Homo sapiens: one gene and its partners. The protein of the gene in region 2 interacts with the protein of the main gene of each other region in a pairwise test. Each region holds a gene or a part of one and is shown on either strand. Other genes may lie near its edges. The genes, in order: ZNF829, TLK1 and LUZP4.

The links.
Region 1: the proteins of TLK1 (region 2) and ZNF829 interact in binary tests that used the Homo sapiens proteins (3 or more experiments, as listed by UniProt).
Region 3: the proteins of TLK1 (region 2) and LUZP4 interact in binary tests that used the Homo sapiens proteins (3 or more experiments, as listed by UniProt).

What each region holds. Positions count from the first base shown.
Region 1 is NC_000019.10:36,895,582-36,899,334, forward strand, and holds part of ZNF829 (zinc finger protein 829), read right to left. Parts: intron 1-3,753. UniProt on the Homo sapiens protein: May be involved in transcriptional regulation.
Region 2 is NC_000002.12:170,993,159-170,996,911, forward strand, and holds part of TLK1 (serine/threonine-protein kinase tousled-like 1), read right to left. Parts: intron 3,603-3,753; coding exon 3,495-3,602; intron 799-3,494; coding exon 622-798; 3' UTR 1-621. UniProt on the Homo sapiens protein: Rapidly and transiently inhibited by phosphorylation following the generation of DNA double-stranded breaks during S-phase. This is cell cycle checkpoint and ATM-pathway dependent and appears to regulate processes involved in chromatin assembly.
Region 3 is NC_000023.11:115,292,671-115,296,423, reverse strand, and holds part of LUZP4 (leucine zipper protein 4), read right to left. Parts: intron 1-3,753. UniProt on the Homo sapiens protein: Export adapter involved in mRNA nuclear export in cancer cells. Binds and enhances the RNA-binding activity of the nuclear RNA export factor NXF1. Can restore mRNA export function in cells compromised by loss of mRNA export adapters.

The DNA of each region.
Region 1 (3,753 bases), on a different chromosome or scaffold from region 2:
AATAAATATGACTCACCTATATACTGGCTGTGAGAAACTCACTTTATATATAAAATCATAGACTGAAAGTGAAGAGATGAAAAAAAAATACTGCACACAAACAAACCAAAAGCAAGTGAGAGTAGCCATACTTAAATAAAACAGACATTAAGTAAAAAACTGCAAAAGAAGCAAAGAAGGTCATTATATAATGATAAATGGGTCAATTCAGCCAGAGGATATAAAGTTCTAAATTTATAGGCACTCAACACTGCAGCACCCAGATATATAAGCAAATATTATTAGATCTAAAAAGAGAGATAGGGCTGGGCATGGTGGCTCATGCCTGTAATCCCAACACTTTGGGAGGCCAAGGCGGGAGGATCACTTGAGGTCAGGAGTTCGAGACCAGCCTTCCCAACATGACGAAACCCTGTCTCTACTAAAAATACAAAAATTAGCTGGGTGTGGCCAGGCGCGGTGGCTCATGCCTGTAATCCCAGCACTTTGGGAGGCTGAGGCAGGCAGATCACGAGGTCAGGAGATTGAGACCATCCTGGCTAACATGGTGAAACCTCGTCTCTACTAAAAATACAAAAAATTAGCCAGGCATGGTGGCAGGCACCTGTAGTCCCACCTACTCGGGAGGCTGAGGCAGGAGAATGGTGTGAACCTGGGAGACGGAGCCTGAAGTGAGCCGGGTTCGCACCACTGCACTCCAGCTTGGGTGACAGAGCAAGACTGTCAAAAAAAAAAAAAGAAAGAAAAAAAAATTAGCTGGGCGTGGTGGCATGCACCTGTAATCCGAGCTACTCAGGAGGCTGAGGCAGGAGAATTGCTTGAACCTGGGAGGCAGAGGTTGCAGTGAGCCAATATTGTGCCACTGCACTCCAGCCTGGGCGACGGAACTAGACTCTGTCTCAAAAAAACAACAACAAAAAAAGGTAGACTCCCATAAAATAATAGTACGGGATTTGAACATCCCACTCTCAGCATTAGACAGTTCATCTAGATAGAAAATCAACAGCTTTGGATTTAAACTGGATATTAGACCAAATGGACCTACCAGACACTAACTGAACATTTTATCCAACAGCTGCAGAATACACATTGTTCCTATCAGCACATGGAACATCCTCCAGGAAGAGACCATACGTTAGGCCATAAGACAAGTTATAACTAATTTTTAAAAATTGAAATCATATCAAGTATCTTCTCAGACTACACTAGAATAAAACTAGAAATCAATAACAAAAACTTTGTAAACCACACAAATAAATGGAAATTTAAACAATGTGCTTGCTCATGAATGCCCATTGGGTCAATTAAGAAATTAAAGATCATCAAAGACTACTACAGGCAACTATATGCTAACAAATCAGATAACCTAGAGGAAACAGAAAAATTCCTGGATACATGAAAACCTACCAAGACTGAACCAGGAAGAAACAGAGCAGAAGAACCTGAGCAGACCAATAACGAGTAATGAGATTGAAGCAATAGTAAAATGTCTCCCAACAAAAAAAGCCCAAGACTAAAGGGCTTTACTGCTGAATCCTACCAAAATTACAAATAACTAACCTCAGTTTTTCTCAAACTATTCCAAAAAATGGAAGAGAAGTTAATTCTTCCTAATCCATTCTACAAGGCCAGCATTACCCTGATACCAAAACCAGAGAAGGACACAACAACAACAACAAAAAGAGGTGATATCCCTCATGAACATAGACACAAAACCCCTCAATGAAATACTAGCAAATGAAATCCAATAATACAACAACAAGATAATATACAACGATTAAGTGAGATTTTTCCTGAAAAGTGCAAGGATGGCTCAACATAAGCAAATCAATAAACATGATGTATCAGATCAACAGGATGAGGGATAAAAACCATATGATCAGCTCAATAGATGCAGAGAAACATCTGATAAACTTCAACGTCTCTTCATTATAAAAACCTCTCAACGATTAGGCATTAAAAAACATAACATAATAAAGACCATATATGACAAACGTACAGCTAACACCATACTGAATGGGGAAAAGCCGAAAGCTTTTCCTCTAAGAACTGGAACAAGATAAAGAAGCCCACATTCACCACTATTATTCAATATAGTACTGGAAGTCCTATCCAGAGCAATCAGGCAAGAGAAAGAAATAAAAGGCATCCAGATTGGATAATAGAAAGTCACACTGTCCCTTTACAGATGACATGATCTTACATATATTTAAAAACCTAAAGATGCCACCAGAAATTCTTGGAACTGATCAATGAAATCAGTAAAGTTGCAAGATACAAAATCAATATACAAAAATAAGTAGTACGCTGGGCACGGTGGCTCACGCCTATAATCCCAGCAGTTTGGAAGGCCGAGGTGGGTGGATCACTTGAGGTCACGAGTTTGAGACCAGCCTGGCCAACATGGTGAAACCTTGTCTTGACTAAAAATACAAAAATTGGCCAGGTGTGGTGGCAGGCACCTGTGGTCCCACCTACGTGGGAGGCTGAGGCAGAACTGCTTGAACCCAGGAGGTGGAAGCTGCAGAGAGCTGAGATCATGCCATTGCACTCCTCCAGCCTGGGAGACAGAGCAAAACTCTGTCTCAAAAAGGGAAAAAAAAAGGATTTCTATACATCCACAATAATGAATTAGCTGAAAAAGAAATCAAGAAAACAATCCCATTTATTAATATAATAGCTACAAAAAACAACCTAGAAATAAATTTAACCATGAAGTGAAAGACCTCTGTAAGGAAAACTACAAAACACAGACAAAAGAAATTGAAGACAACAAACAAATAAAAAGATATTTGCATGCTTATGCACTGGAAGAACTATTGTTAAAATGAACATACTTCCCAAAGCAATCTACAGATTCAATGCAATCTACAGATTCAATGCAATCCCGACTGAAATGCCAGTCAGTTTTTACATGAACAGGAAAAAAAATCCTAAAATTTGTAGGAAACCATAAAAAATGCCAAATAGCCAATGCAATCTGTAGCGAAAGAACAAAAGTGGAAGAATCAAACTTCAAAATATACTACAAAGCTGTCGTAACCAAAACAGCATGGTACTGTCATAAAAATAGACCCAAAGACCAATGGAACAGAAGAGAGAACCCACAAATAAATCCATGTATTTATAGTCAACTGATGGTTGACAAAGGTGCCAAGAACAGACATAGGGAAAAGGACACGCTGTTCAATAAATGGTGCTGGGAAAACTGGTTATCCATATAGTGAAGAATGAAACTAGACTGTATCTCTCACCATATACAAAAATAAACTCAAAATGAATTAAATACTTAACTATAAGACCCCAAATTATAAAACTACTGCAGGAAAACATAGGGGAAACACTTCAGAAGAATAGGCAAATATATTTTAGATAAGACCTCAAAGATATTTTCAATAAGGGGCAACAACAAAAAAATAGACAAATTGGACTATATTGAACTAAAATGCTTCTGCACAGCAAAGGAAACAATCAGCAGAGTGAAGAGACCTGTAGAATGGGAGAAAATATTTGCAAACTCTTCACCTGAGAAGGGACTAATATCCAGAATTAACAAGGAAGCAAAAAAACTTAATAGCAGTGCCATAGCGGCTCATAACTGTAATCCCAGCACATTGGGAGGCCAAGTCAGGAGGATCACTTGAGGCCAGGAGTTCAAGACCAGCCTGGGGAACATAGGGAGACCCCCCCCGATCTCTATAAACAGTTTTAAAATTAGCTAGGTATAGTGGCATGCACCTGCAGTCTTAGCTA
Region 2 (3,753 bases):
ACATGTGATCTCGAGGTACAACTTGGTAAAAGTCTGAATAGGCAAATGACAAAGCCTAACTTTGTCCAAAGATTCTAACTCTCACATTCTATTACTATAAAACACAACTGTCACTGTCATTCAGTTCTTACTTTGGTTTCAGCAGATTAACTGCCAAATGCTGAAGAATGTATCCAGGCACTATAGTTCGTATGTTAGAAATATGTCTCATATTTTTCCATGTGTTTTTAAATAATGAAAAACTACCCTTCATATTAGAACTCTCTAGTAACAACCAAATGTATTTAAGTATTATAAACGTTATTTACAGTGTTCCCCCAAATAAACAAAATTTTTTTCCTCTATCTTAACATGGTATTCCTGTTTCTGTGTAACAGGCAGTCATCCTTCCTTCACTGCTCAAAATTATAGTCAGAAGTGTGCATTTATTCATTGTCCATGATCCTCTCTCATACAAATGACACTATGAGGAACTTCAGTTCACAAACAGTTCTTAACCACGTCTTGTGTAAAAAAAAAAAAAAAAAAAAAAGAAAAAGAAAACAAACACTCAAATGCTCTCAAACTTAAGTGTGCATCTGGAAGCAAATTCAAAGATATCATGCCAATCTTGGAGGAAAGTCAGTAAGTAATTATGCTTGAAGAAGGGGGTGTAGGGGATGCTGTCAGCCCAGCCATGTGTAGGTTTCCTGAAGAATTTGATCTTCTCATGTGTGGGAGAAGGTATGGGTCATTTGCCAGCTGGTGCACATCAAATCGATCTTCTTTTCGATATGCCAAACAGCGTCTTATAAATGCCTCAAAAAGAGAAAGGAAATGTTAGCAATTAATGATCTTTTTCCCTTCTAAATATCAATCAACTGAATCAGCAGAAGGATGGACACATTTAAGACATAAGTAGATCTCATTTTATTGGAAGTTCAAACCTTAAAAAAAAAATTCTGTAGCTAGAAAATTCTCACTCCAAATGCAACTCACTGCTTGAAGCCCCTGCAGTGGTTCACTTTACAGTCTAAATTACTACTGCAACCATTTGAACTTATACTGGAAAGTTGTTTCTGCTTACGAAATTCTGAAGACTTTTTTCTAGCATTTTTCTTCTGCTAAACAGTCCTCCCACCCTCATCCCATTTTGTTATCACTTCAGTTTAGCAAAGGGTAAGATGCCATTTTCAACCATTATTTTTTTTTCCTACTGACATAAAGACTTTCTTTAGATGAAGAGATCACTGAAGGGACACTTTCATTAGGGACATTGTTTCCCAGGTTAACCCTATGCATCATTACACTCCTGGAAAAGCTAAATAAACAGAATATAATCACTATTTTTTTTTTCTCAAACCAATTTTACTCAGTTTTTCTTTGAGAATAGCCTCTTACAAAAAAAAAAAAAACCTTTCCTGAAGTGTAACACATTTTTAGAAATGCACACAAATCGTTAAGTGCATAGCACAAAGTAAATACATCTATGTAACTGGCAACCAGATCAAGAAAAAGAACCTCTGAATCCCCCTCATGCCCAGTTCCAGGCACTGGCTCTGTCCCCAGTCGAACCTGGGTTAACCTTTATCTTGACTTCTAAAACCATAGTTGAGTTTTGATTGTTTGAATTTTATATAAATAGAATTATAAATTATGTTCTCCTTTGCCAGGCCTCTTTCACCCAATATTAAATTTTGAGGTTCATCCTTTTTTGGGGGGGGAGGGAACAGATAAAATATTCTCAGGAGGTAACTGGTAATTGTTTCCCTTTCTTAATGCTGACACTAGAAATTAATACATACCATTAAACAGAAGTATAATCACATTAAAAGGTAACTATTTTGCACTTTCTTTGCTTTGAAATTCATTAGAAGTATATTTTTCTCTAAAAATATACCTAGCTATTCTCATTTTACCATAGCTTACTGTTTATTGGAAGTCAATCTGATCCCTTAGAGGACTTATCTTTTTTATCTTTAACAAAGTTTCAGAGATCACTTTGAAAAATGATTAAGAGGGAAAAAAACATCAAGACTGATATGTTAGAGTTTGAGGAGTGGAAAGGCTATCAATAGCAAGGTTAAGGTTAAGTCTGCAACAAATAATGTACTTAAAGATGCCCACACCAAGTCAGGGAAAGTACTTGGCAAAGGTATCTTCTGTAGGGATACAGAATATAGAGATATTATATATTACATTAAAATATTAAAATTTATATCATATAATTGTATCATATTAATATTATATCCCCCCAACAACCCCTTAACCCTTCCTGGATTCCAGATCTCTAAAAGGTGACTGTGGTGCCTATTAAGAGCCTAAGGAGAGAACCAGGAATGGCTAAATGAGACTTTGCCTTTGGCAACTCCACTCCTCCTGGTCTTTTCAGTCAGTATTAAACAAACAGATCATGAATCAACTAAATTCATTTAATTTCTGTTCTCAATGAGGCTACAGACAGAAAATAAGACAAGATTTAGATGTCAGCACAGTTAAAATATTTTTAAAGGAGTCATATTTATCTTACAAAAATAATTCATTTTGCTTTCAAATAAGAATATTTATCTCTTTTGTTTTTTTGAGAATGGGTCTTGCTATGTCGCCCATGCAGGAGTGCAGTGGTGCGATCTCACCTCACTGCAACCTCTACCTCTTGGTCTCAAGCGATCCTCCCAGCTCAGCATCCTGAGAAGCTGAAACTAAAGGCACGGGCCCCTACACCGGGCTAATTTTTGTATTTTTAGTAGAGATGGGGTTTCACCATGTTGCCCAGGCTGGTCTCGAACTCCTGGGCTCAGGCAATCTGCCTGCCTGGGCCTCCCAAATTGCTGGATTACAGGTGTGAGCCACCGCGCATGGCCTATTTGGTTTTTTTGAGACAGGGTGTCACTCTGTCCCCCAGGTTTGAGTGCAGCGGTATCGTCATGGCTCACTGCAGCCTTGACCTCCCTGAGCTCAGGTGATCCTCCCACCTCAGACTCCCAAGCAACTGAGACTCTAGATGTGTGCCACCACGCCTGGCTAATTTTTGTATTTTTAGTAGAGACCGGGTTTCACCATGTTGGTCAGGCTGGTCTCAAACTCCTGACCTCAGATGATCTGCCCGCCTTGGCCTCCCAAAGTGCTGGGATTACAGGTGTGAGCCACCACGCCCAGCCTTATTATTACTTTTAATATTTCTTATATACTTATATATCTCAGTATTAACATAAGCAGATAAAATAATACATAAAAGGTAATGATGAGCCCAGATCTTGTGATTTTTCCCTAATTTTCAAAGTAGCAGCTGATGAACATAAACAATCAGAGACCATAGCTTAAAAGATAAAAACTATAGCAACCAGAGGCTGATGCAACTCCTTCTCTGAAAGTAAATCACCAGCCCCTGCTGGACAGATCCCCTGCAGCAGCGAGTCTTGTGACTTTACTTACTGGAAAGTACTTACCTTGTTGTCAGCACAACTGATGAAAGAAAAGTTACTTCACAAAACTCATTTACAAAAATTTAATACCTTGGCTTCACTGCTTACAACCGGTTTTACAGGGAACTGGACTTCTGTGGCTTTTAATATTGTATTTTCTTGAAGAATGTCTTGTTGAGATTGATTGTGACCAAATGGCTTAAAAAAAAAATTAAATGTTGAGATACTTTTCTCACAAAATATTTAAACACAGATATCATTTCTGTTTAAGCGAATTCCCAAAACCGAAAATCCAAATATCTTGTGTTCTAAAATCTTCCTCAGTTATTTGAAACCTGAGATGAATTCT
Region 3 (3,753 bases), on a different chromosome or scaffold from region 2:
GAGAACACTTAGCCAATCTCTCAAGGAGAGACATTTGATCCAGGCCTCACCAAAGAGCCTTAAATTTGAATTCTTGATATACTTACTCTCAGAAATAAACTGTCAGGACTGAAGAAAGACAGTATTCCTCACACAGTTTAAAACTGATCACACTGCTTGAGGTGCCATATGAATAATTACATTTTTATTTAAATTGCATAATTAATTTTCTTGTGAAAAGTATACTTATATTGCATTTTATTTTACAGTGGGTTGAAACCACTATTTTATATTTATAAACATGTAAAATACACCACAATTTTTGTTTTGCCATTTTTTAAATATTTAAAACACTGGAAACCTCAAAAAATGTAAGTGACTTAGGTTCCTCTCAACTTCTGAAAAATTCTGACTATACATACTTCCAGAATACTTAAAACAATGTATAATTGCACATATTTACTTAGCTGTCTCTCCAGCTAGATTAGGAGGTACTTGAGAAGAGACCACTGTTTATTTACTAGTGTACTAAGTGCCTAGCACAGAATACAGAGTGGATAATCCATATTTGTGGATTCGTGGTCCAACATATCTAGCAGGCAGAAAGAGTTCTTTTCTTTCTAACTACAACACTTTTGCATCAGTCTCTTTTAGGTAAAAGTAATTAACAGGGGAGTGGAGTTCCTATTAAGTTCTTGCTGTTACCAGTTCGAATTTTGGTCTTATTTTTGCCTTTTATTTGTTTTAAAAAAAAAAAGGACTCTAATACTTTTTGGGTATGTTTACTGAGGGCAAAAACAAAAATAAATCTGTAGAGCCTTTTCCTACTTTAGCGTGTATTACAATGGAAGTAATAACCTTGCATCCAACATACTACTGCTTTTCTAAAGCATGTGTTTAGTTATCTAAAAACAAAGATATGCATTGTTAAAAAGTATTATTTTCACTGAGAAAAACATGGGGAAATTTATCAGGAAAAAGTATGGCGTTCTCATTACATCATAGAAAGCAACATGTATTTGCTATTTATTGTGTATTTTTCTTGCCTTCAAACTGCAAGGGCCTCAGCCTGGCACGGTGGCTCACGGCTGTAATCCCAGCACTTTGGGAGGCCAAGGCGAGAAGATCGCTCGAGCCCACGAGTTCGAGACCAGCCTGGGCAACATGGCGAAACTCCGTCTCTACCAAAGAAAATACAAAAATGAGCCAGGTGTGGTGGTGCACACCTAGGGTCCCAGCTACTCTGGGGGCAAAGGTGGGAGGATCGCTTGAGCCTGGGAGGTCCAGGCTGCAGTGAGCTGTGATTGTGCCACTGCACTCCAGCCTCAGCGACAGAGACCCTGTCTCAAAAAATTAAATAAAAGTAAAAATAAAATAAACCGCAAGGGCCTGTGATAACTAGTCGAAAGTTTTGCTGTTCCTCCTGACATGATCAAAACTGGGATTCTCATCTGTCTAAAAAGGTATAAATATGGATATAGAGAACCAATGTTTAAAATATGGATATAGAGAACCAACGTTTAAAAGGATAAAACAGTGACCTCAAGATTTTTTACAACTCGGTGACTATGAGATCTTACAGTCATACTTAATCTCCAACTAACCTACCAAATTCAACTCAACATCTTTCCTCAGCCTTTCAAATAACTGAAGCAATCTTTCCCAAAGCAGACTCTCCAGTATCCTTCCAGCTGTAATCATCTACTAAAATATAAGTGCCTCCTAAGTCCGTTTACTTCACTATTATTCAAGTTACACGACACCACCATCTCTCTCAGTCTCCCAGAGACTGACGTGAGCTGTTTAAACCCCATCTTTCACCTAGATGGTTTTTAATCTCTTTCATGTCTACTGTATCTATGAAGTTTGATAACAAAATCCTAAGAGGAGAGGTAACTTCTCCAGCTTGCCAAATTGCTGGCTACCCAAACGTGAGCGTTTAGGCCCACTTTCCGGGGCACATATAGCAAATATTTACTCAGCTTTTTCCACGTCAGGCAGCATACTTTGTGAACATTACCTGTATTCTCTCATTTAATCTTCAACAACTCTATGATGTAGATTTTATTCAGATCAGGAAACTCAGGCCCCAAGAGATGGAGCAACTTGCACAAGGTCACACAACTACTACATTTTTGGGACCAAGCCACTCTGCAACTATGGCCCTTATTTCTCTGAATTTTGAGATAAACCCATTGCTTTAGCTATTTATCAGTTTTGTTTTGTCTTTTCTGTTAGCAGTTGCAAAAACATCAGTGAAATCAACACAAAGAAAAGTGCAGGAAGCATGAAGTTTTACCTCAGTGCTATAAATTCCCTTCAGTTCTAGGTTTTTCTCCCTTCAAGGTCCCAGTGACAAGGCAGGGCCTAGAGTGAGGTAAGTGAGGAATTCAGGCACAAAATTCAAGGAGGTCCCCCAAAACTCAGTAATCAAGATTAAAATATCTCAACACAATATTTTCTTTTTTTCAATCTTTTTTTATTTTTTTTTTTTGAGACGGAGTCTAGTTCCATCACCCAGGCTGGAGTGCAGTGGCACAATCTCGGCTCACTGCAACCTCGGCCTCCCGGGTTCAAGCAAATCTCCTGTCCCAGCCTCCCAAGTAGCTGGGACTACAGGCGCCTGCCTCCACGCCCGGCTAATTTTTGTATTTTTAGGAGAGACAGGATTTCACCATGTTGGCCAGGCTGGTCTCGAACTCCTGACCTCAGGTCATCTACCTGCCTCAGCCTCCCAAAGAGCTGGGATTATAGGTGTGAGCCACCACGCCCGCCTCACAGTATTTTCAAAAATAAAAATCAATGCAAAACCAATCCGTGATGAACAAAATATCAAGCTTTTTTTTTAAAAAAAGGATAGTATCAAAGGCCGGATGTGGTGGCTCACACCTGTAATCCTAGCACTTTGGGAGGTCAAGGTGGATGGATCGCTTGAGCCCAGAAGTCGAGACCAGTCTAGGCAATATAGTGAGAACCCGTCTCTACAAAAATACAAAAAAATTAGCTGGGCGTGGTGGCACACGCCTGTATCCCAGCTACTTGGGAGGCTGAGGTGGGAGGATTGCCTGAGCCCAGGAAGTCGAGGCTGCAGTGAGCTGTGATAATGCCACTGCACTCCAGCCTGGGTGACAGAGTGAGATCCCATTTCAAAAAAGAAAAAAAAAAATAGGATCAGATCAGACCCTGTACTTGCACAGCCCTCCTTCACTTGTTTCACTCTAGTTCTTAGGTCAAGAAAACTTTATTTACAAAAACAGGTGGCCAGACAGATGGCTGTAGTGTGTCCATTTGATTTTTTAAATATTTCATTAAAATATTAATTATCCCTATTAACAAATTTTTTTTTTGTGACTCCTTGAACTTTATACTGGAAGCAAGTGCCTCATTTACCTCACCCTAGTCCCAGCCCTGGCCAGTGACCAAATATTATTTTTAAAGTCATTTTAATGCCACAAAATATTTCAGAACTTGTGATGAAGTTGGGGTAGGGGGAAGTAGCAGTATGGGATCAACAGGGACCATGTCTTAGAAGAGGAAATTGATACCGATCTTAAAATAGATTGCTAAAAACATCTTAAAGACAACAACAACAAAAAATACTTAGTTACTTTTCAGGGCCATTCCCCCTCAGAAGTAAAGTGGGAGGCAGGTAAATTCCTCAACCTCATAAGGGCATCTACAAAAACCCAACCAAAGGTAAAATGATGATTAATGGTGAAAAACTGAAAGCTTTTCTCCCTAAGATCAGAAACAAGTCAAGGATGTCCAATCTCA